Homo sapiens: one gene and its partners. The protein of the gene in region 1 interacts with the protein of each later gene in a biochemical or structural test. Each region holds a gene or a part of one and is shown on either strand. Other genes may lie near its edges.

Region 1 (8,001 bases):
GTCCATGAAAAAAAAGTTGTGTGTAGGGGGGAAATAACCAGCATCAGTACAGCAGCTGTTCTTAGTTCTTGACATTACCGTGTCCCAGACTCTTTCATTCAATTGTATTTACTCCAAGGAGTTTTTGTTTGTTCTGAACCATTTTGCTGAGTATTGTTGCTGTCTTAAGAACAATGAACTCCCAGACCCACATGGTTTCATGAGTGAATTCTTTCAGATCTTCAAAGAGCAGAGTTCTTAGGCTATTTAAACTACATCAGAGCGGAGGAAGAGGAACTCTGCCCAGTTCTTTTTAGGAACCAGCATAACCTTGATACCAAAACCTAGCAAAAATAACAGAAAAAGGTGAGTATAAAATGAATCTCAATCATTGATTTTAAATAAAAATGCTACCAAAGGAACCAATATATACTTAAATATTACACCATGACCAAGCGTAAGATTGGTTCACAAACTGCAAATATACTAAAGTAATTCACTATCCTGTTAGGTCAAAGATGAAAAGTACCTATGAAAGGTTATGATAGATGTCAAAAAGCCATTTGACAAAATCCAACTTCCATTCCTGATAAAAATGTTAAGAAGTAATGAATATACACACCAAATGAACATCCAATATCTATTATTTAAAATTGTTCTCAAAGTGCTATCTAATACAATAGACACTCCCCATCCCCAGTTGCAAAAATGACTTTGGATGCAATCCAAACAGTTCTCTGCAAAAATCACAATGAGCTAGAAATATTAAAGGAAACTTCCCTGATAAATATAATTTATTAGATATTAATAGTAACTTCATATTTAATGATGACATAATAAAAACATCCCCAAACTAAGAAACAAGATAAAGGATGGCCAGAATCACTGTTTTATTTACCACTATTCTGGGGAAGCCAGCAATTCACTAAAGCAAAGAAAGAAAGAGATAAGATGAATTATAATTAGATGATTGTTTTCCTAGAAAATTCAAGTGAAACAATTTATTAAAATTAATAAATTTAGAAAGTTGGCCAGATACATAAACACTCATCTACATACCAGTCACAAAATATAAGAAAATATAATGGTTAAATCCCAAAAAGAGTATTTTAATGAAGCATGAACAGTTTATGTTAAATTTTATCTCAAAGATAATGCAATTATATTCAAGAAAATTTTGAAAAGGAAAAATGAAGAGGGACTTGTCCTATGAATTACTAGAAAACGTAATATCAAAGCAGATTGGTATTTTTAAAGGAAGAGACAAAAAGATCAAAGCAACAGATGAGTCTAAAGAAAAGATGCATGTACACTTGAGAATTTACTATATTAAGGAGGTATTTCTAGTCAGTTGGGAGAGAAATGATTTCAACAAATGATTTCAGGAAAAAATGGCTGCCTAGTCATAAAAACAAAGAAAAAAATTAAATCCTTATCTTAGCATACAAAAATCATTTTCAGATGTTTTAATGAGTAAATCATAAAAAGAGAATTAACAGGCAATATAGGAGAAGATTTTAAGAATTTTTGAGTGGGGACTACCTTCTTACCTGAGATAAAAAGCCTGGGCATTTTAAACCAAAGCATTGATAATTCTTGAAAATATTTGCCATATATTTCACAAAGGATTAATGAAATCTGTAGTCTAATGAGAAACAGATAATTTTGAAGAATACTGGGCAATATATACGGACAGGACATAGTAAGTGACAGTTAACTATAATTTGGTACATCTACACAATGCAGTACCACGCCAACATTACAATAAAATAGAGCTACATATGGCAAGACTTTCACCATATATATATATTTAATCTGAAACAGATTATCGAACAGTATGCATAATCTCATTTTCATAAGAAAGCAAAATAACATGGTTATGCACATACAGGAAAGATGTGGAAGGCTTGGATTACAACTGGGGAGAGGACTGAGAAGGATTTCACTTCCTGCTTTGCACATAGTTGTATTATTTGAGGATCCCTCCTCTCTCAAATGAGGACACAATAATTTTTAACAGAATGCACTGCTTGCTTCTCTGCTACCTCTCGTTTGGGTGTGTATTCCAACCGCGGTAAGAAGGCAGGTCATTTTCTTTTCCTTCAATTTCACGTCGCTTCTTCACTTCCTTTACTACCATCTCTCCCTTATTATAACTTGTCAAAAGCATCTCCTGTGAGGTGAGATAAACACCACTTTACATAGCAAGGCTGCTTTACTTTTGCTCGTTATAGCATAACAATAAAGGCACAGCTCTTCTTTGATTATCCTCCCCCTTTCTACTTCTAGAAAAGCACAGCTTTTTTGCCTGTAACTCGTTGCTAGTCAGTTTACACCGGCGTGAGGACTCTACCTAACGCCTGGGTTCCCACTGTGGGCGGGGTTGGCTTCTGTTCTTCCTGCCTTGGCCACCCACTCCCTCCGTGACCCTCTGGGAAGTTACCCAACTTCTCATTGACCAGGCTATGATGACACCCCACAGGAAGGCAGAGGGGAATTGTGCAACCACCTTGGGAAAACAACAGAAAGAACCAATTAAGTTTTCGAAAGAGTAACCACGATACTACTTGATTCTAGGAGGCAGTCTCTCTCCCGAAGGGAAGTCGGGAATGTTCCTGGAGGGTCCACTGCTCACCTCGACACCGCAGGCCCTTCCACCCCCATTTCCCGGGCAAAGCAGCCGGGACGAGTCCCTCCCTTGAAGCCGTTGGGGCAGAGGCCGACGATGCTATGCTGACATCGCGGGCCCGGAAACCAACCCACAAGGAGTCCGCTCCGGGGGAAGGACTCGCGTGGTTTCTCCCGCACAAAATCCCTCCCCAAACTGCAAATTGGTTGTCTCCGCTGCTCCTCGGCTTCTCTCCCTGCGGCGCCCCTACTGTCAGCGCGTCCCTCTCGCTCACGCATACAAATTCTCCGACGTCGTGCTTGACGGATTCGGACACACCAATTCACAAAGTTTCTTACTCACACAGTTCACGCTTTCAGCTGCGTTCCCTCTCCCCTCAGGTCGCCGGCGCCTGGCCGAGTGACTCCAACCGGAAGTTGCATTTTGTTCCAGTTCAGAGGGCAGTGCCTGCGCGCGGAGCCATTAACTCTTCACCTCCACCCAACAAGGCCAGGGCCCTTCCGCCCTGCCCCACCCAGCCCAGGGCTCTTCTGCCCCGCCCCTGCCCGCCCCGCCTAGCGCCCTCCCCCAGCCCTGCCCAGCCAAGTCCCCGCCTCTTAGAAAAAAAAAGCGTCAGCAGCGGAAGAGAATCCTATGTCAAGTGTAAAGGTCACTTGTGAGTCTTTGCTGGATTTTTTTGCCAAACGATAAATAACCGGTAAATAAATAACCAGTAAATAAATAACATCACCCTATATATGAGTTAGAGTACACAAGAATCACCTGAGAAACAAAATGTAGTTTCACCAACCGACTCCTACAGCTTTCATTTCAGAGCAACTGGAGTGAAGCCCAGGAACCTGCATTTTCAACAGATCCTCGTAAATTTATGTAATTAAACGTGGTTAAAGTCCACACTCTGAGAAACACTACATATACACATACCCATTTGGTTTCTCCCCAACTGGTAGTATTTTTCACTAAATGTATTTGTTAAAGAGGAATGGCTGGAAATGGAGGTGGAACTTTATTAGAAAATTTCCCATGAATTAAGACTTTCCCATTATTCCAATTCCTAGCCATGCATGAATATTATCTAAGATTCATATCTTAGATACCGCAAGAAAGATATCTTTTCCCTTTAGGGCAAGAGGATGAGGTCTGGCTGCCCCAATTTCTCCCTGTATTTCTGAATCATGGATGTTTACACATCTTTCCTTAGGCCAGTAAGTCCAAGGATTTAAAAACCTGCCAAGTTGCAGTGCATTCTGTCTAGTTATCTTGAATGTTGCTGTATACTTTTAAAAGTCAAAGCCTAAATATATTTGAAACAATGTTTTTAACAAACAGAAACTTCTTATATATAACGTTTTGACCAGTTGAATAGTTTTCTTGTAATAAGTAATTGAGTTAAACATCACAATACAGTACTGCTTTAAAAAAATTATTTAAACTTTTTTTGAGGGCAGTTTTAGATTCACAGCAAAATGGAAAGGAATGTCCAGAGATTTTCCATATACTTTCTGCCCCGACACAAGCATAGCCCTTCCCCATTATCAACATCCCTCACCCCAGTGTGATGAAAAAAAGCTGTTATAAATATCTGTGTGCAGGTTTTTTTGTGCGGACATAAGTTTTCATCTCCTTTGGATAAATACCAAGTAGTATGATTGCTGGATCATAAGGTAAGAGAATGTTTAGTTTTGTAAGCAATTGCCAAATTGTCTTCCAAAGTGGCTACCATTTTGCATTCCCACCAGGAATGAATAAGAGTTCCTGTTGCTCCAAATCCTTGCCAGCATTTGGTGTTGTAAGTGTTCTGGATTTTGGCCATTCTAATAGATGTGTGTCATATTTTATTGTTGTTTTAATTTGCATTTCCCTGATGACATATGACGTGGAGGATCTTTTCATATGGCTATTTATTTACCATCTGGTTAACTTCTTTGGGGAGGTAAAGGCCTTTGGCCCATTTTTTAATCAGGTTGTTTTCCAAATGTTGAGTTTTAAGTGTTCTTTGTATTTTTGATAAGTCCTTTATCAGATATGTCTTTTGCAAAAAATTTTCTCCTTGTCTGTGGCTTGTCTTTTTACTCTCTTGACAATATCTATTGCAAAGCAGAAATTCTTAATTTTGATGAAGTCCAGTTTATTCAGCACTGCTTGAGCAAATTAAATAAGCTGATTTGAAGATTTCTGATTGAAATAGTGGAATTTAGTAATATACTCAGAGTCTAAAGCTGAATGCATAGGCATTTTGAAATATGGAGGTGCTAAAAACTTTGAATAAGGAAATAGCTAGATATACACATTTCTTAAATGCGTATTTTTCTCTTTCCACTTCCATGATGTTGTAGTCTTGAAGAGAAGTGGCTGCATAATTCCCCTGTATGTGAAATATGCATAAATGCTGGTAGAATTATTTTGTAATCAATGCTAAAATGGCATCAAACATTTTCCTTTTCCTATAATGATGATTTTTTAAGAATTCACATACAGTATGTTTTACAAAGGTTAGAAATTGAGTTGACATTTATTTGAGGAATAATCTTTTAAAATAATGACATAATTTTATTCCAATTTTCCTTCACTCATATTATTATATACCTCAAGTTAGTGAGCAGTGATGTGGCTTTGGAGGTTGGGTATGGTGGCATGAAAATGGGGAACTGACCAGGTGTGGTGCTCACACATATAATCCTAACACTTTGGGAGGCCAAGGGCAGAGGATCACTTGAGCACAGGAGTTTCAGACCAGCCTGGGCAACATAGTGAGACCACGTCTCTATTTAATAATATTAATTAATGAATTATTATTAAAAGAAAATGAGGGAATTGCAGGCCTTTAAAAGATATTTTGGAACCTGGACGGGTGCAGTGGCTCACGCCTGTAATCCCAGCACTTCGGGAGGCCAAGGCGGGCTGATCACTTGAGGTCAGGAGTTTGAGACCAGCCTGGCCAACATGGTGAAAACCCGTTTCTGCTGAAAATACAAAAATTAGCCAGGTTTGGTGGTGCACACCTGTAATCCCAGCTATATGGGAGGCTGAGGCAGGAGGATCACTTGAACCCGGAAGGCAGAAATTTCAGTGAGCCAAGATCACGCCACTGCACTCCAGCCTGGGCAACAGAGAGAGACTCTGTCTCAAAAATATTTTGAATCCTAGTTTTAAAACTGCTTAATAATTTATTGAGACTTCTGAATATAAACCTAAGGACAAGGAAACCTGGCAATATAAACAGTTACTATGACTTGGAATGTCAGTTATGTTCTCAGTCAAATCTTTGATGTGCAATATCACTATTAATGGAATCTGGTTGACTTCTGATTTACGATGACATCTGGACTGGCTGATTATATTGCAGACTCTCCAACTAAAATGGCTATGAAAAATCAGAAAAACATGAGAACTCACAATGGCCTTGGAAGGCAGACTGACAACCAGGGCCACTGTGTATGGTTGAGCAGGCTGTGCTCAGTTGCAAAGCCTTGCCTCCTTCAGCCTGTGTCTTCTCAGAGAGGTGCTTTTTCTAACTCACAGAAAAGTACCATAAGAGCAGCTATAACCCTGTTGACAAGCACCCTAGTTCCAGAATTTGATAGGATACTGGACTTATTGCAAGAACTGTGAAGCTGAAATGGACATGTACTTTTTTGTTGGAAGGCAATCAAAGGTGTTGGTATGGAAGGATAGTAAGGAAGCTACCTGCCTCACGGCCCCTACTAGTAATTCCACTACTATGTGTGATGGCTAAGAAGTATTTTACACCTCTTTGCCCTAATCTCTCCCATTAGTTTCTCCACTCTATGACCCATTTTGGAGCTACGGCCTAGAGAATACCAGCAATAACCCAAAGGGAGTGGATAGGTGTAATGCTCTGTGTCCAAGCTTAGGAAACTAATAATGAAAGGGGTTGGGCAGACAGAACTGGGTGTTTGTTTCTCTGGGGGTTTACTTTTTCATATATGGTTCTTATCAAGAAAAAGACAAATCATTGTTTCTGATTAACCAGGAATTCTTCTCTTTATAGTAAAATAACTAGCTATTAAAGGTAAGGAATCTCACCTCAGCCCAACACCCGCAGTGACAAAGTTGATAAATGTCAGCTTCAAACCAAAAAGTTAGCTGTTGACTGTGCATGTCTATATGTCTTCCAGTTCAACATCTATGCTGAAGAACTTAATAGCATCAGACAGATAATGAGAAGAGCCAAGAACCAAAATCCACACATTCAGGTAGTAAGGTTGACACAAGGCTTGGAACGAGTAATTCAAGAGAAAGCATCCCTTTGAAAAGATTATGCTGTCTGAAAGAGAGTCTTCAAAATACAAAGAAAGTGAATACTTTGGAAAATTATTTACCAGAAGCAGAAGTATATGGAGAGAATCTGCTTTGTATTTTCTATGCAAAAAGAGATGAAATACATGATAAGCTATTAGACTAAGATAAGGAGGGAACTAGAGACAAGGTGAAATAAAACCAAAGTTGGATAAGTTAAGTCTGTAAGGACACAGAACAACATGCAATGGCAAAATTCACATATAATTTGGACATAATCAAAGATGGAATCAGTATTGCAGAATAATAAATCAATGATTAGAGTAAAAGCTTGAAAAACTCTTCCAAAATATGACTGGAAAGTACAAATAGGTGACAACCATTAAAGGAAATGGTAGAAAGATTATGCCCCAACTTCTTCCTGAAGAAGAAATTGGGGTAAATAGAACAGAGACGGCAACCACAGATATATCAGAAGCTATCTGAAGTAATACTTTGAACCAATACAATACTTTGTAAAAATGAAAAGGACTCAATGTGTTTTGAAATATATTAATGACCTATCTTGTTAAAAATTTCAATATTAAATGCCCTATCAAGTCATTAATTTAATCAGTGAATATTTTGGGAATATTTGCTATGTGCTAAGAATTAGGGATAGAAAGATCACTAAGACACTGTCCTACCTTTAAAGAACTTGGTGTCTATACTGGGTGACATACATACAAGAATCAGGCAATTACTATACAATGTGGTATTATGATTTTTACATTAGGGGTAATATATGGTACTCTGAAAACACATTGGAAAGTCCATCATCCAGCCTTGAGAGGGTGAAGGAAGGCTTCTGGTATCTAAGTTATGGAAAAAGTTCGACAAGAATCCAGGTGGAAAAAAAATTAATTGCAAAGGAAGAAAAACTTGTCTTCAGCAGTAAACTTCAAAAGCTGAATAGAATAACATCTACAGTTGCCTGGGAAAGATTTGACCTATAGTGTCTGCCTACTCAAGTTATCATTTATTCAAGAAAAGGAAAACAAAGACATTCTCAGATACCTCAAGGTTCAAACATCATACCACCCATTTTCTGAAACAATTGAAGATATGCTTCCCTTATTCGAGAAGGAGTCAAA
Region 2 (7,022 bases), on another chromosome or scaffold:
ACATGTTAATCAAGAAATACAAGCAACTTTTTAAAAGTTTTAGAAGAAGATATTTTCTTTTAACCAACAATTATTTTTGAAACTTGAATTGAAAAGTTGTGCTGGAATCAGCATAGCTAGAGCACTAGCTTTGTGTGCAGCAATGAAGAGCCCACCACCTGAAAGCCAATTCACACATGGCTTCATTTACAGACAACAGCTGGCTTGAGTCATTGTTAATAACTGCATGGAAAATTGTGAATATAATTAAAATTGCAGCCCTTGAATAGGTATCTTCAGCATGTTAAGAATGCAGCGGCAGGCTGGGCACACAGTGGCTCATGCCTGTGATCCTAGCACTTTGGGAGGCCAAGGTAGGTGGATTGCTTGAGCCCAGGAGTTTGAGACAAGCCTGGACAACATAGCAAGACCCAACCTCTATTGGCGGGGGGGGGCGGGGGGAAGCAGCAGCAGCAAATACTCTGTTTTTCTGTTTTGTCAAGAGGAAATATGCTAACAATACCTACTCAAATGAAGGATATACTTTTTTTTTTCTTTTTTTGAGACAGAGTCTTGCTCTGTCGCCCAGGCTGGAGTGCAATGGTGTGAGCTTGGCTCACAGCAACCTCTGCCTCCCAGGTTCACGTGATTGTCCTACCTCAGCCTCCCAAGTAGCTGGGATTACAGGCGCCTGCCACCACGCCTGGCTAATTTTTGTATTTTTAGTAGACACAAGGTTTCACCATGTTGGCCAAGCTGGTCTTGAACTCCTGATATCAGGTGATCCGCCTGCCTTGGCCTCCCAGTGTTGGGATTACAGGCGTGAGCCACCGTGCCCAGCGGATATTCATTTTTTTTTATAACACTGATGTCATTAAAACATATCTATGATTTTAAGCGGCTAACTCAAGTGCCATACCTCTATGACAGACAGTATAGTGACCAGCTTGAACATATCATTTGAGAGTAAAATTATAATTCTCTCTTTTATTTAAGATTGGTTTCACTCTGTCACCCAGGCTAGAGGGTAGTGGCGCAATCATAGCTCAATGCAGCCCCAAACTCCTGGGCTCAAGTGATCCTCCCAGCTGAGCCTCCCGAGTAGCTAGGACTTACAACAGGTGTGCTCCATCACACTTGGCTAATTTTTTTTCTTTTTCTTTTTCTTTTTTGTAGAGAGACAAGGTTTTGCTATGTTGCCTAGGCTGATCCTGACCTCGTAACCACAAGCAATCCACCCACCTGAGCCTCAAAAGTGCTGGGATTACAGATGTGAGCTACCATGACTGGCCACAATTCTTTTTTGTTGTTCAGACAGGGTCTCACTCTGTCTCCCAAGCTGGAGTACAGTGGCGCAATCACAGCTCACTGTGGCCTCCACCTCACAGGCTAAGGCAATCCTCCCACCTCAGCCTCCTGAGTAGCTGGGACTACAGGTGTGTGCCACCATGCCCAGCTAATTTTTTTTTGTTATTTTTGGTAGAGATGGAGTTTCACCCTGTTGCCCAGGCTGGTCTCAAGCAATCTACTCGCCCCAGCTTCCCAAAGTGTTGGGATTACAGGTGTGAGCCACTGTGACCCGCCACAATTTTTTTTTTTAGCACGGCGTCTCGCTCTATCTCCCAGGCTGGAGTGCTGTGGCGCTATCTTGGCTCACTGCAAGCTCTGCCTCCCGGGTTTACGCCATTCTCCTGCCTCAGCCTCCCGAGTAGCTGGAACTAGAGGCACCTGCCACCAAGGCTGGCTAATTTTTTTGTATTTTTAGTAGAGATGGGGTTTCACTGTGTTAGCCAGGATGGTCTCGATCTCCTGACCTCGTGATCTGCCAGCCTTGGCCTCCCAAAGTGCTGGGATTACAGGTGTGAGCCACCGCGCCCGGCCCGGCCACAATTCTTAGTAACAAAATATGCAGACTAAATAATGATACAAATGGCTTAACCAAAGAGTTTTACTCTTTTCTTTTTTCTTTGAGATGGAGTCTCGGCTCTGTCGCCCAGGCTTGTGTGCAGTGGCACGATCTTGGCTCACTGCAACCTTTGCCTCCTGGGTTCAAGCAACTCTTCTGCCTCAGCCTCCTGAGTAGCTGGGACTACAGGCACACGCCACCATGTCCAGCTAACTTTTGTATTTTTAGTAAAGACATAGTTTCACCATATTGGCCGGGTTGGTCTCGAACTCCTGACCTCGTGATCTGCCCGCCTCTGCCTCCCAAAGTGCTGGGATTACAGGCGTGAGCCGCCACGCCCAGCCAAGATTTACTCTTTTCTAACAACTAGGTAGACTTAAAACCATATTCAATTACTGCACTAAACCTGAAAACATATTTCCTAGAACTGAATTCAACCAAAAGGACAGATCTACACATTGCCATCTCCAAAATTAAAATACTCAACTTTGCTTTCGAGTGCCATACACTTGTCAACTTGATGTAGTTTTCAGTGAGAATTCTTGTAATAATTTTTGTGTCCATTTGAATATCTAAAACATCTAATAGAAATATTTAATTGTTGCTCTTCCCAACTCTATAATTCAAAGGTGGGGCTATCTAATTTAGTACAACTAAGAGCAAGAAAAGAAATCAGTTAAATATGAAACCTTAACTTGGACTTTAGTGAGTCTTTCACCATTCATGTGGTGGTACAATAATGTGAACAATCATTGCTTTTCCTGATACTGATTTAAAAATACTTCTTTGATCTTACAATAAAAACATTTTGAATTATTCTTTTGTGTTTATCTAAAATCAGTGGTATGCACTGAAGACCCATCACATGGTCCACAAATTCCAAATGTTTGAAAACACTACTTTCTCTACTACACTACTTCCCCTTCAAAGGAAGCTATCATTTCTTCCTGTGCATGTTAGAGAAAAACAGAGAACCAAGGACATTTTGTTTGCCCTTATTATTAATCTTCTCATATTAGAAAAGCACTTCATTATCTGCATTTATGTTGCCACATTTTCAAAAACATTGGTCTGATTTCAGTATGAATAGCACTTATAAAAAACAATATATATAATAATTATTTCCAATTTTTCCTGAATTCCCTCTGCCCCCAAAGACATTCTTTCCTTATGACCTTCCCAGAACCCAAGCTGCCTTCCTATACCTCTTGGTTACAGTCAAGGGTTATAAAAAAATGTTTAACAACTGGCATGGTATAAACACCAAACCAAGAGATTGACACCAATTTATAACTGTATGGCTGTAATGGAACAGGCTCACTAAATATCAGCCTTAGTTATACTGCTGCTAAAGAAGCAGCCTTAGAATGCTTCTTGTAAGCAGTCTGCTATACTTTTTTTCCATGCTAGGCCTGTTCTCAAAGATCTTTGGTTATTTCTTACCTGCCACTTCACAGAAAAGGGATAGCAGGGTTCATGAAAGAAACCACATAAATTGGATTCCAAAGATGAGTTTAACGTCACATCTTATTAAATATTTAATTTCTCTACTTTTATTCCTTAAAAGGAAGAATTAAGGAGAAGTATTAGAACATACTACTGCTTTCTTTCTCTTACACCGTCTCCAGATAATTAAGCTAAGTTAGTTTTTTTTTTAAAAGTCAGCTTTTTATTAGAGCTTTGTTATTCAATTATATCCACACAGGTATGCAAGTTCTTTCTCCTTTCTATCAAACAGACAGTTAATACACAGGCAAATGGATAAATTTGGGGATATATTAAGGATACTGTAAACTGTTAGCAAAAGAAATAAATGTCTGACATTCAGAGAGGAAACAAGAGAAAGGGAATATAGAAATTCACACCCTAAAAAAAAGAGGTGGTTCATTTTAAAATGAACTTATAAAGTTATATATAATAACATCAACTATATCTGTGTTGTTTTTAAAGATATTCTTACCCAATTTTGGAAAAACTATTAGGTATTCAGCATTGCACTGAGGACATGCCACTCTGGCTGTACTGTTTCCTCTTTGCTTTTCATCCACCCAGCGTTGTAGACAGGCCTGGTGAACCCATTTTGTAGATCCTCTGCACCTGCATGGTCTCACCCATTCAGCTGTTCTATCATCTTCATCAGTAGCAAAACAAACCCAGCAACTTCTGTAAATTAAAAGAGAAAAGGATGACATTTATATCTTTAGGACTCCAGCCTCCTCTATACTGCAGCTCTTACTTAATGGGATGAGCCTGCTATGTTATATTACAGAATCTCTGTCCTATATTAAAAGACTAAGGAGACAAAACAACCAATACATTCCCACTAGAGCAGTTTCTACTTTTTCTGTTTTTCCTTGTCTTCCTCTACAGAACTTATGTTTTCTGAACTTTGTTTTTATGTAATCTCCTCTATCTTTTCAGTAATTCTTCACCTTCTCTAATGAACCAGAGTGCAAGGAGACAAACCTCAAGTTGTTTTTGTTATAAGACCTAATAATTCTTTGAGGAATAGTAAGCACAGTAATATATTAAATTCAGTGTTCTCCCCAGTTCACCACCACCAATCCCTTGAACTTGGAAAAACAAAGTATTACACGAGTGATTTCACATACAGTCTCATTCCATTTTTCAGCTGAGGAAAAAAAAACCCATTTTTCTTTCCGGTAAAGTATAAACATGAGAGAAAACAATATTACATTTTCAAAAAAGCACAAAGGAGATAAATATATCAAGATTTTTTTTTTTAGAATAGCAATATGATAAATTTGGGCGTGTATGCTTGAAATCTGAAATCTAGAAGTATCAAGTCTGGGGTGCTTATATTAATAAAAATAAAATTCTATTGAGATCGGTAATTTTAAAACATTTTCCCACTTTGCTTTTAAGGGTACTTCATGAATTGTAATTTTTTCTTGTGGAATTAGGTTGTAATTCCTCAGTTTTTCTCCCAATTAACACAAGTTTTGACATCGATTTCCATCAGGGCAAATACAGTTCAATTCAATGAGACCCTTCGCTCCTCCCCTCCATTAGAACTTGTACAAGTGGAAACAACTGCTAATTAAAGCATGTTACCTACTGTGCACTTTTTAATTAATTGGATAAGTGGCTTCTGTCAGAACAACTAGCTTAACTATGCTCAGTGGGAAAGACTATATACTCAGGTATTATAGATGGGTGAGGTTCTCCAGTCCTTGTGGAACAACATGAATTTCAATTGTGTGCTCCAATTACAATTTTTCAATTAGAACAGAAAAAAAGTTGAACTGAATCCAGGGCATCAATATCCAAAATAGTTGTTTTATTCAGCTTTCAAATTCAGTCAGGTTTCATAAGATCTAAGTAAAATTAGAACGTAGGTAGCATTTGTTTAGCATTCTGACCCTTTTGACCCACTTTAGCTAAGCTGTCTGGGCCTTCACATTGTCTTATGGTTGTCCAAAAATACTTTGTTCTTTTTTAAAAAATTTTATCGTCAAATAGACATAGCATAAAATCTACCATTTTAGCCATTTTTTAGGTGTATAATTCAGTGGCAGTAAGTATATTCATACTGTTGTGCAACCACCAAGACTACCCATAGTAGGACTGGGTTCTAACCTATGATTTTTGCATAAAATTTCAATTGGTAAGTATACTAGCACACAGGCTGGTTAAGATGTTGTTAGTATATATTTTTCCCCACAACTGAGGTAATTTTGTGGACATATTTGTATACATCTAGGAAATGGAATGTATCATTTTAGCAACAAAATACTGGCAGAATATTTAGAGACTCTTTAGTCTCATACTTTCTTAACACAAACGTAAATAAGAATAGCTACATCAGCATAATTAATCAGTATTATGGTGAATCACATTTTAAATTAATCCAATTTCAGTCATCAGAAAAATAAAATACAATGTTAGGACTAGGTTGAACCAACTGAAATAGTCTACATTAATCTGTTTCTGACTTACAGAAAAGATAGGTCAAATTTCATATTTTGATCTAATGAGAATACTTGTGTAGCTATTATATTCCTTATAAATTCTAGATAAGGTTTATTTTTCCCAAACATTTTATTATGAAAAATTTCAAACTTTCCAAAAAAAGTTAAAAACTGTTCAGTGACTACCCATATACCCAACATTTAGATTCTATAATTCTTATTCTGCTATATTTGCTTTCTCACACATCCATTCATTATTCTTATTTTTTGCTGCATTTCAAAGTTGCAGGCATCAGTATATTTCAGTCCTAAATACTTGTACAGATTTACTTTTTAGAACTGACATTTAAAGCATGCACTTGGCCGGGTGCCGTGGCTTAAGCCTGTAATCCCAGCACTTTGGGAGGCTGAAGCGGGCGGATCACAAGGTCAGGAGATTGAGACCATCCTGGCTAACACGGTGAAACCCTGTCTCTACTAAAAATACAAAAAAATTAGTTGGGCATGGTGGCGGGTGTCTGCAGTCCCAGCTACTCAGGAGGCTGAGACAGGAGAATGGCGTGAACCCGGGAGGCGGAGCTTGCAGTGAGCCAAGATCGCGCCACTGCACTCCAGCCTGGGCAACAGAGCAAGACTCCGTCTCAAAAAAAAAAAAAAACAAAAAACAAACAACGCACGCACTTATGCACTTTCAGTTTTTTTTCTAATTAATTTCACAACTATGGTAAATAAGATAGCTGAATGATGATTCAGAGTGCGTACTTATCAGGAGTTAGGCTTTCAGTTGAAATAGCAGTATTAGAGGCATGTGAACCAGAGCAACTCCGTCTTGATTGAATAGGAGCTGGGTAAAATGAGGCTGAAACCTACTGGGCTGCATTCCCAGATGGTTAAGGCATTCTAAGTCACAAGATGATATATGAGGTCAGCACAAAATACAGGTCATAAAGATACTGCTGATAAAACAGGTTGCAGTAAAGCCAGCTAAAACCCACCATAACCAAGATGCTCACGAGTGACCCCTGGTCGTCCTCACTGCTACACTCCCACCAGCACCATGACAGTTTACAAATGCCACGGCAACGTCACGAAGTTACCCTATATGATCTAGAAAGGGGAAGCATAGGCTGGGCGCGGTGGCTCATGCCTATAATCCCAGCACTTTGGGAGGCTGAGGAGGGCGGATTATGAGGTCAGGAGATCGA
Region 3 (7,440 bases), on another chromosome or scaffold:
GGGCTGGGCCTGGCGAGTGGAAAAAAATTCCCTTAGAAGGAAACAGAGGTGAATTTCCCCATGATTTGCATATGATGGGGGGGCTAGCCCGCCTGCCCCTGGGGAGGGGGGGTGGCCGGGCAGGAACCGAGTAGCAGCTGAGACAGGAAGTTTGAGGCTGGAATTCCCCTCCTGCCACTACCCCAGCTCAGAAACCCCCGAGGTGGGTGCGTGGCTCTGCTTCTCAGGAGCAGGCTCCTCTGAGCACCCCTCATCACAGCCCCTCCTCCCATGTCCCTCCTCCTTCTGGATACAAACACATACTGCATATGGCTGCTCCCAGGGCTCAGCCGCTCCTGGCCCATACCTCCAGAGGAAGGAGTCACACAGATCCAACCTAGCTCCTAGCCCAGCTACATGAGGCTGGACACTGAGAGGGACCCCTTCTAATCTCGAAGCATGGGCTGTGACCTGCTGCCTCTTGGCATGGAAACTGGATTTTCTCAGCCTCCCATCCAGGCTCAGCCCAAGTCAGAGAGAGGAAGACTGGCCTGAAGGTGACAGAAGGAGGGAAGAGCACTCAGCTGCATGCCTGCTGAGCTGGGCCAGGGCCAGCTGGACAGTGAACTTGTCCCACAGGGGCCACAAATTAGGGAGGGCAGAGGCTGATGTCATGCCAGCCTTGGGCAGCCCACCTAGGAGCTCCCTCAGGGCAGCCAGAAAATCATCCCTTCTCAACCCTGTGTCTGGGGTCTCCCCGTCCATGCCAACAGGAACTTTTCCCTGTGAGCCATCCACCCAGCACTGACTCATCAGCCTGCCTTGGAGGGAACTGGGAAAAAAGTGGGGCCAGAGGGTGGAGCCTGGATTGACGGGAGAAGTCTGGGTTTCCCAAGGTCAGCAGCAGCCCTGGCTTCCCTCTCTGCCCCTACCTCCCCACCCCATTCCTGTGCTGGGGGATGGGGGTGGGAGTCACTGGGGGCTGAGTCCTGGCTCTGGCCCCGGGGAACCTCCAGAGACTGGTCCAGCCCAGGCTGCTTCAGCTGAGTCAGTAGGGATCCAAGTTGCAGCTCGCCTGAGGCCAGAGCATCAGGCCACCTGCCCACAACCCATGTAAAGCTGGACCCAGCCTTGAGGTCACTCTTGGACACAGTCACTGGACCTGTTTTCGTGGGAGCCCAGGTCTGAGACAAGAAGGCCTCAGAAGCCCAGCCCCTGAAATAACAACAACAACTGCTACTACCACTGCCTACTACCACTACTATGGTTCCTGAACGCTTGCTCCTCTCCGGGATCCGCACACTCCCTCCTCACAACACCCACCTGAGATCAGGTTCCGAGGGGTGAGTGAGCAGCTGCCCACGGGCTGGTCCCCTTTACAGCCCTGCCTCACATTACAGGAGAGGAGTGGAGACACAGTGCTGGCCTCAGGGAGGGACCCACAGCATAAGGTAAGCTCTGCGGACAGAGGGACCTGGGCTGGAACCCTGCCTCTGTCACTTACCAGTAGCGCGACCCTAGCCTCATAAAAGGCTTTCCCTCCCTCTAGACCAGTCCCTAAGAAGGAAGTCACTTCTTCCAGCCCACCAGAGCTGCAGAGACAGTCATCCTTCCATGTGTCCTGGCCACAGGAGAGATGCGAACCTCATGTGTCCTGGCCACAGAAGTGACACTTACCTCATGGCCACGTTGCTCCCATCGATGACCACTGGTCTCAGGTCGCTGCCCTCCTTTTCCTCTTCTGGGAGTGGAGGCTCCAGGTTGGGAGCCTTAGGGGTGCCACCACCCCGCGGGACTAGAGGGAGCTGAGGGCAGGGGTCCGGTGAGGTCTGGCGCTCCCGCTCGGTGGCTGTCCCGTGTTTCACCAGCTCACCCAGCACCGTGTTGGTGTCTGCCTGGACGCCCAGCTTCTGCAGGACGCTGTGGATCTCCGTGGATGAATAGCCCAGCTTCCGGAAGAAGTCCACCTTCATCTGCAGTTCCAGGGCCGAGGCCTCCTCAGCGGCCAGCTCTTGACCCGGCCTTGGGGTGCCCTGACGGCTGTGGCTGTCCTCAAATTCCCACAGACTCATGGTGGGGCTGGCTTCCAGGACAGGCTTCTCTCCACAGGGGCCACTCATAGCTCAGACTCCTGGAAGGCCCCGCGCCACAGCTCCTACTGAACAACCAACAGGGTTAGGGACGGTGAATAGCGCTCTCTCCTAACCTCCCTCCCAAAACCACATCCAGCAGGATGAGGGATTGGTGGCACTACACACTGCATCGTGTTATTAGTTCAGGTTGTCCTCTCAAAAGCTCTCCCAGCTAGGCATTCCCATTCCCATTCTATAAAGGGAGAAACTGAGGCACAGACATTAAAAACGTGCTCAAGGTCATCCAGCTGTTAGCTGGTGGCTCGAAGATCGGAACTTAGTCTGAACTAAGACTGGAACTACCCCAGCTGTAAAGCCTCGAACCCCCACGCCAACCCAGGGGACCCAGAAGGCAGGGACGGGGCTCTCAGATGGAATCCTGGGGCTGGAAGTGCGTTGCGGGGCCCAAGGCTTCCCCACTGAGGCCACCACTTTCGCCCACCCGTCCGGCACTCAGAGCTCAGGCCCAGGCAGCGCAAGGCCCATGGCCGGACTCCCGGAGCCGGGGAGGGCAAGTTTCTGGGGTGACCCGTGGGGAGAAAAGTTGCTGGAAAACTTTGGTTGGCTGCCGGGAGCTGGTGACGCCGAGGCTGTCCCGGCCCGAGACCCGCGCTTGCTCGGCCCGCGATCCCGATCAGGAACCTGGTGCTCTTCCCCGGCTCTCCCAACTTGGGCAAAGTTGGAGGGGTCCTGAGGCCCGGCGGGCCGGGGAACAGGACCCCGACCCTTCCGTCCCCTCCCCTCTCCACCCCTCCCGTCCCCTCCCGTCCCCTCCCCTCGGCTCGGCTCGGACCCCGCCGGAGCGCTCCCTGCCGCTTCCCCGCCGAGGCCCGCACCCTCCCCGCCGCGCCTCACCCCGCCATGCGCCAGCGGCGGCCGGCGGCGTCTCCATGGGGCCGAGTCCTGGGGGTAAGGACGGCGGCGCCTTTATATGGGGCGGCGCGCGGGCAGGTGGTGGTGAGGCACTGACGCGGAAGCGGGCAAGGGGCGGGGCCGTCCCGGGAGACCGCCCCGGGGGCGGGGCTGCCTCGCCCCTTCCTGCTCCGCTCCTCGCGTCGCGGCCCCGCCCCCGCGGCCGCTGCGCGCCGGACGGGGCCCAAGCGGGGGTCGGAGCCTCAAGGCTGCGGCGGCGACGAGCTCCGAGCGGGACACTGAACGGCCCGTATGCGCAAGATAAGCACGGACTGAATCAGGTACACGCACCTGCCGGGGACGCACTGACCGAGGTGCGGACGGCGGTACCAGGACAGGTAAAGCCGCGAACACTCGGACCTAAGAACTTGACAGGTACACCCTGCCTGATGAAGCTACGTACGGCCAGGTGCGCATCGAGTGAATCAGGTACGCGGAGGTTGGTCCACGCACCTTGGAGGCAGGTCCATGGTTATAGACAGGTACATCCAGACAGGCACTTTTCAGATGGAGTCAGGCCCCCTCAAGACACACTGTGCTTAAAGCCGTCACACAGAGGTTGGCCACCCCCGGGGCCAGGTACACTTTTCCTGAAATCTGTACTTTACTAGGACCAAAAGGCAGGTTCAGTCAGCAGATGCACAATGACCGAGGCAGAAAACCAGGCAAAAGAGGGCCATTTACCCCAATCACCACATGAATACTGTCCACACAAGAATACTGTCACCCATACCGCAGAACTCACTGAGCGCCCCCACTGGAGGAGCACCCTTGCTCCATGAAGATGCTTTTAGTTTCCCAGGTCAGACCTGATCCCTCGCATGAGCACAGCACTTTACAGGCTTACACTCACGGGCTTACAGACAGAGGTCATTATGCTGATGTTACCCTTGAGAAATTCTGCAAAGGCTAAACTGCCCCAGCTGGAAAGACTCGAACCAGGATGGAGAGCTCCTATTCTAGTGCTCCTATTATTTGCCATTTTTGTGAACCACGAGTGACTGAGGGCAGAGGGGAGCCTGGCTTCCTATGTGTGTGTGTGTGTGTGCGTGCGTGTGTGTGAGTGAGAGAGAGAGAGAGAAAACACAGAGCCCACACGCTGGAGGACAGAGCCACATGCCACCAGTGCTTACTATGTGCCAGTCCTTTGTTACATTCTCTCTACCTCATCATAGGCATGTATCCTATAAGTGCTAGTGTTATAATAAATACTTGTTTATTGTAAAAGACACCATAGACACAACTGTACATGTACAGCTTAAAGAATAATAGTAATAATAAAAAAGCCATGTATCCATCACCTAACTTAAAAAATAGACCAGTGCCAGTACCTTGAGGCCCTCTGGGTGCCCCCATCACAGCCTCCTGCCCACATCCTGAAGAACTAGTTTCCTGAACTTTAATTGTGCTAGTCATTCTCTTGCTTTTTCTTGTAGTTTTACCACCTCTGTATGCATCCCTAAGTGGGATATTGTATAGTTTTGCTATTTTTTACTTTGTGTAAACGGAGTCATTCCATAATTATGTGACTTCCTTTTTCATACAGCATTATATTTTTAAAAATCCATTTTGATTGCCTGCATACCTGTAATTTATTTTACTACTGAATAGTGTCCCATTTTATGAATATACCACTGGTTACTTATTCAGTCACCTGCTGTTGGATGTTGTTTCTAGGATTTTTTTTCTATTACAAAGACTGTGCTTTGGATATTCTTGTATGTATCTTAATGAAATTGTACAGTGGAGGAAATGGATGTTCAGAGATTCAGAAAGGTGAAGTCACCTGCTCAGGCTCTGGGGGCTGGTGGAGCTGGAACTCATGTAGCTCTCTCCAAGGCAGTCCATCTCCCCATCCACACCTGCTTGTTCGGGAGGCCACCAAAGACCCCAGGGAGGCAGGCGTGTACGTCTCTATCTGGACCCTGAGGCTGTTCCTCTGGGCTTGCTTGCTCTTACCTAGCGGTGTTCCTGCTTTGTTGCCTGGTCATCTTTGAAGACCCCAAAGTGTCCCCTTCTCTGCTCCCCAGGCACAGCAGCTCCAGGGGCTTGGCAACCCAAGGAGAGAGGAAACACAAGGCCCCCTGCTGCATGCCAGCTCACATCCCATGCTGGGCACCTCACATGCTTGCTGTCACTCCAGCTGAGTGCGGTGCCGGCGGCACCCCTAACCTCACAACAGTCCCTTTTACAGATGAGAAGAGCTCAGTTATGTTAAGCATTTATTCGCTATAGCAACTACCTTTAAGATAGTAAAAACATTAAGTGATGTGTCCAGGTTAATAATGATAATGACAATACTAATCAATCATAGAGATAATGCCTCCCATTTATAGAGTGCTCACTGGGTGGCAGGCACCAGCTAGCGCCTTGCAGACACTTTCGGGCCTCTGCTCTGCTTCTTCCTTGGCTTGGAGTGCCCTTCCCTCTCTCCCACCCAGCTGCTTCCTAGCCAGTTCCATTCATCTTTTGGATGATGTCACCTCCTCTGTGAGGCCAGCCAAGACTCCTTTGATGCTGGTTGTACCCTCCTAAGTGTCCCCACAACACCCTGCCTATGTCCCAACGTGTTAGATTGTCTTTGCCAGCCTGAGACCTCCTCTGGAGCTGCAACAAGACCAGACTCTGCTCCTGCTCCCAGACCCTCTGCTGCCCAGCCCTGTGCCAGTAGGAGCCAGCAGGACTAGGCGATGAGTCATGCTGCTCCCTGCCCTCCCAGAGAGAGCCACAGTCTCGCTGTCTTCCGGCTCATGCTACTTCCCAAGAAGCCGACTCTCCTCTACAGAACCCACGGCTTCTTTGGGGAACCCCTGCTCCGTTTACAGCTGGATTTTGCAAACTTTGGCCCTAATCCCCAGGAGTTCTCTGAAGCCGAGCCCACACAAACCCCTCTGCCTCTCGTATGCCTGTCTTGGCAGCTGGGCTGGCTAATTTCCTTCTTGGAGCCTGCCTGGCCTCCCACCATCTATCTGCCTGTGCCCAGCCAGCGTAGGTGGGGTCTGCAAAGCTTGTGGACTGGTCACTGCCTGAGGGTGGTGGGGGGTTGGGAGATGAGGTTGGAGAGGGAAAGGTCCCAGGAATGACCTTGGCTTTCAGTTGCTTCACTGGGCAGCTCAGCCTGGGGAGGACCCGGGAACTGGGCTACCTCTGTAGAAAGGCTGGGCAGGCTGCCCTCAAGCCTTAAGGGAGTGGCTGCTGAGGTGATGTTTAAATTCAACAAGGCCTCCTAGAAGTGAAGAAAGGACCAGATCCCTCCCATGTTTGAGACTCCTGGTATATTTCTTTTTATTTTTTATTTTCGAGATGGAGTCTGGCTCTGTCGCCCAGGCTGGAGTGCAGTGGCGCGATCTCAGCTCACTGCAAGCTCCGCCTCCCAGGTTCATGCCATTCTCCTGCCTCAGCCTCCCGAGTAGCTGGGACTACCAGTAGCTGGGACTACAGGTGCCTGCCAACACACCTGGATAATTTTTTTGTGTTTTTAGTAGAAACGGGGTTTCACCGTGTTAGCCAGGATGGTCTCGATCTCTTGACCTCGTGATCCGCCCGCCTTGGCCTCCCAAAGTGCTGGGATTACAGGCATGAGCCACTGCTCCCGGCCAGACTCCTGGTATATTTCAAAAAGACATGTCACAGCAGGGCTACAAAAATCAATGTATGTTTTAAACGGTAACTGAACAAATTAACTCTTTTTTTTTTAAATCATGCATTCAAATGCGGTGCAATATATTTGGACTATTGACAAGATAATTGGAGAACTTGTATTAAAAATACATTATTTCCTTGGAGAGATGGCTGATTTTAGGGCTGGGACAGGGAAAGGATGAGCCGGCAGTGTGCTGTGGTGCCAGGGATTTAGGAAGCGCTCAAAACACAAAAGGATGGGAGTGCGTCAAAGGGATCCAGGAGCCAGAAGAGCTCCCTATGGCCAAAGCTGGAGCAACTGAGCAAGGGAATAAATAATAGGATAATATTGAATTATAACCTAAAGTATAAAATAAATATTTATACTGATATAAATAATTTTTTTGTTTTCAGAGCCAGGGTCTTGCTCTGTCGCCCAGGCTTGAGTGCAGTGCCGTGATCATAGCTCACTGTAACCTTGAACTCCTGGGCTTAAACGATCCTCCTGCTTCAGCCTCCTGAGTAGCTAGGACTACAGTTGTGCACCACCACGCCTGGCAAATTAAAAAAATTTTTTTTGTAGAGATGGGGATCTCGCTATGTTGCCCAAGCTGGTCTTGAACTCCTGGCCGGAAATAGTCCTCCACCTTGGTCCCCCAAAGTGCTGGGATTAAAGGCATGAGCCACCATACCCAGCCCTGATATAAATAAATTGTTGAATCAATAACCTACTGGGGGAGAAGAGGCAAGTCTTCCTTACAGAAGAATTTCCAATAATGAATGCAGATTGTTTCTC

What was found. Proteins that work in one complex are often made in the same cells at the same time.
Region 2: of the proteins of TANK (region 1) and MARCHF5, one has a biochemical effect on the other in vitro, tested with the Homo sapiens proteins (one study listed by BioGRID).
Region 3: the proteins of TANK (region 1) and ZC3H12A form a complex in vitro, tested with the Homo sapiens proteins (one study listed by BioGRID).

Annotation. Positions count from the first base shown.
Region 1 is NC_000002.12:161,155,436-161,163,436, reverse strand, and holds the start of TANK (TRAF family member-associated NF-kappa-B activator), read right to left. Parts: upstream 3,010-8,001; 5' UTR 2,951-3,009; exon of another isoform or gene 2,887-2,950; coding exon of another isoform or gene 2,615-2,886; intron 2,489-2,614; exon of another isoform or gene 2,150-2,488; coding exon of another isoform or gene 2,025-2,149; exon of another isoform or gene 76-2,024; coding exon of another isoform or gene 1-75.
Region 2 is NC_000010.11:92,308,161-92,315,182, reverse strand, and holds part of MARCHF5 (E3 ubiquitin-protein ligase MARCHF5), read right to left. Parts: intron 4,049-7,022; coding exon 3,846-4,048; intron 1-3,845. UniProt on the Homo sapiens protein: Mitochondrial E3 ubiquitin-protein ligase that plays a crucial role in the control of mitochondrial morphology by acting as a positive regulator of mitochondrial fission and as an important regulator of immune response.
Region 3 is NC_000001.11:37,470,156-37,477,595, reverse strand, and holds the start of ZC3H12A (endoribonuclease ZC3H12A), read right to left. Parts: upstream 3,017-7,440; 5' UTR 2,967-3,016; intron 2,138-2,966; 5' UTR 2,100-2,137; coding exon 1,657-2,099; intron 1-1,656. UniProt on the Homo sapiens protein: Endoribonuclease involved in various biological functions such as cellular inflammatory response and immune homeostasis, glial differentiation of neuroprogenitor cells, cell death of cardiomyocytes, adipogenesis and angiogenesis.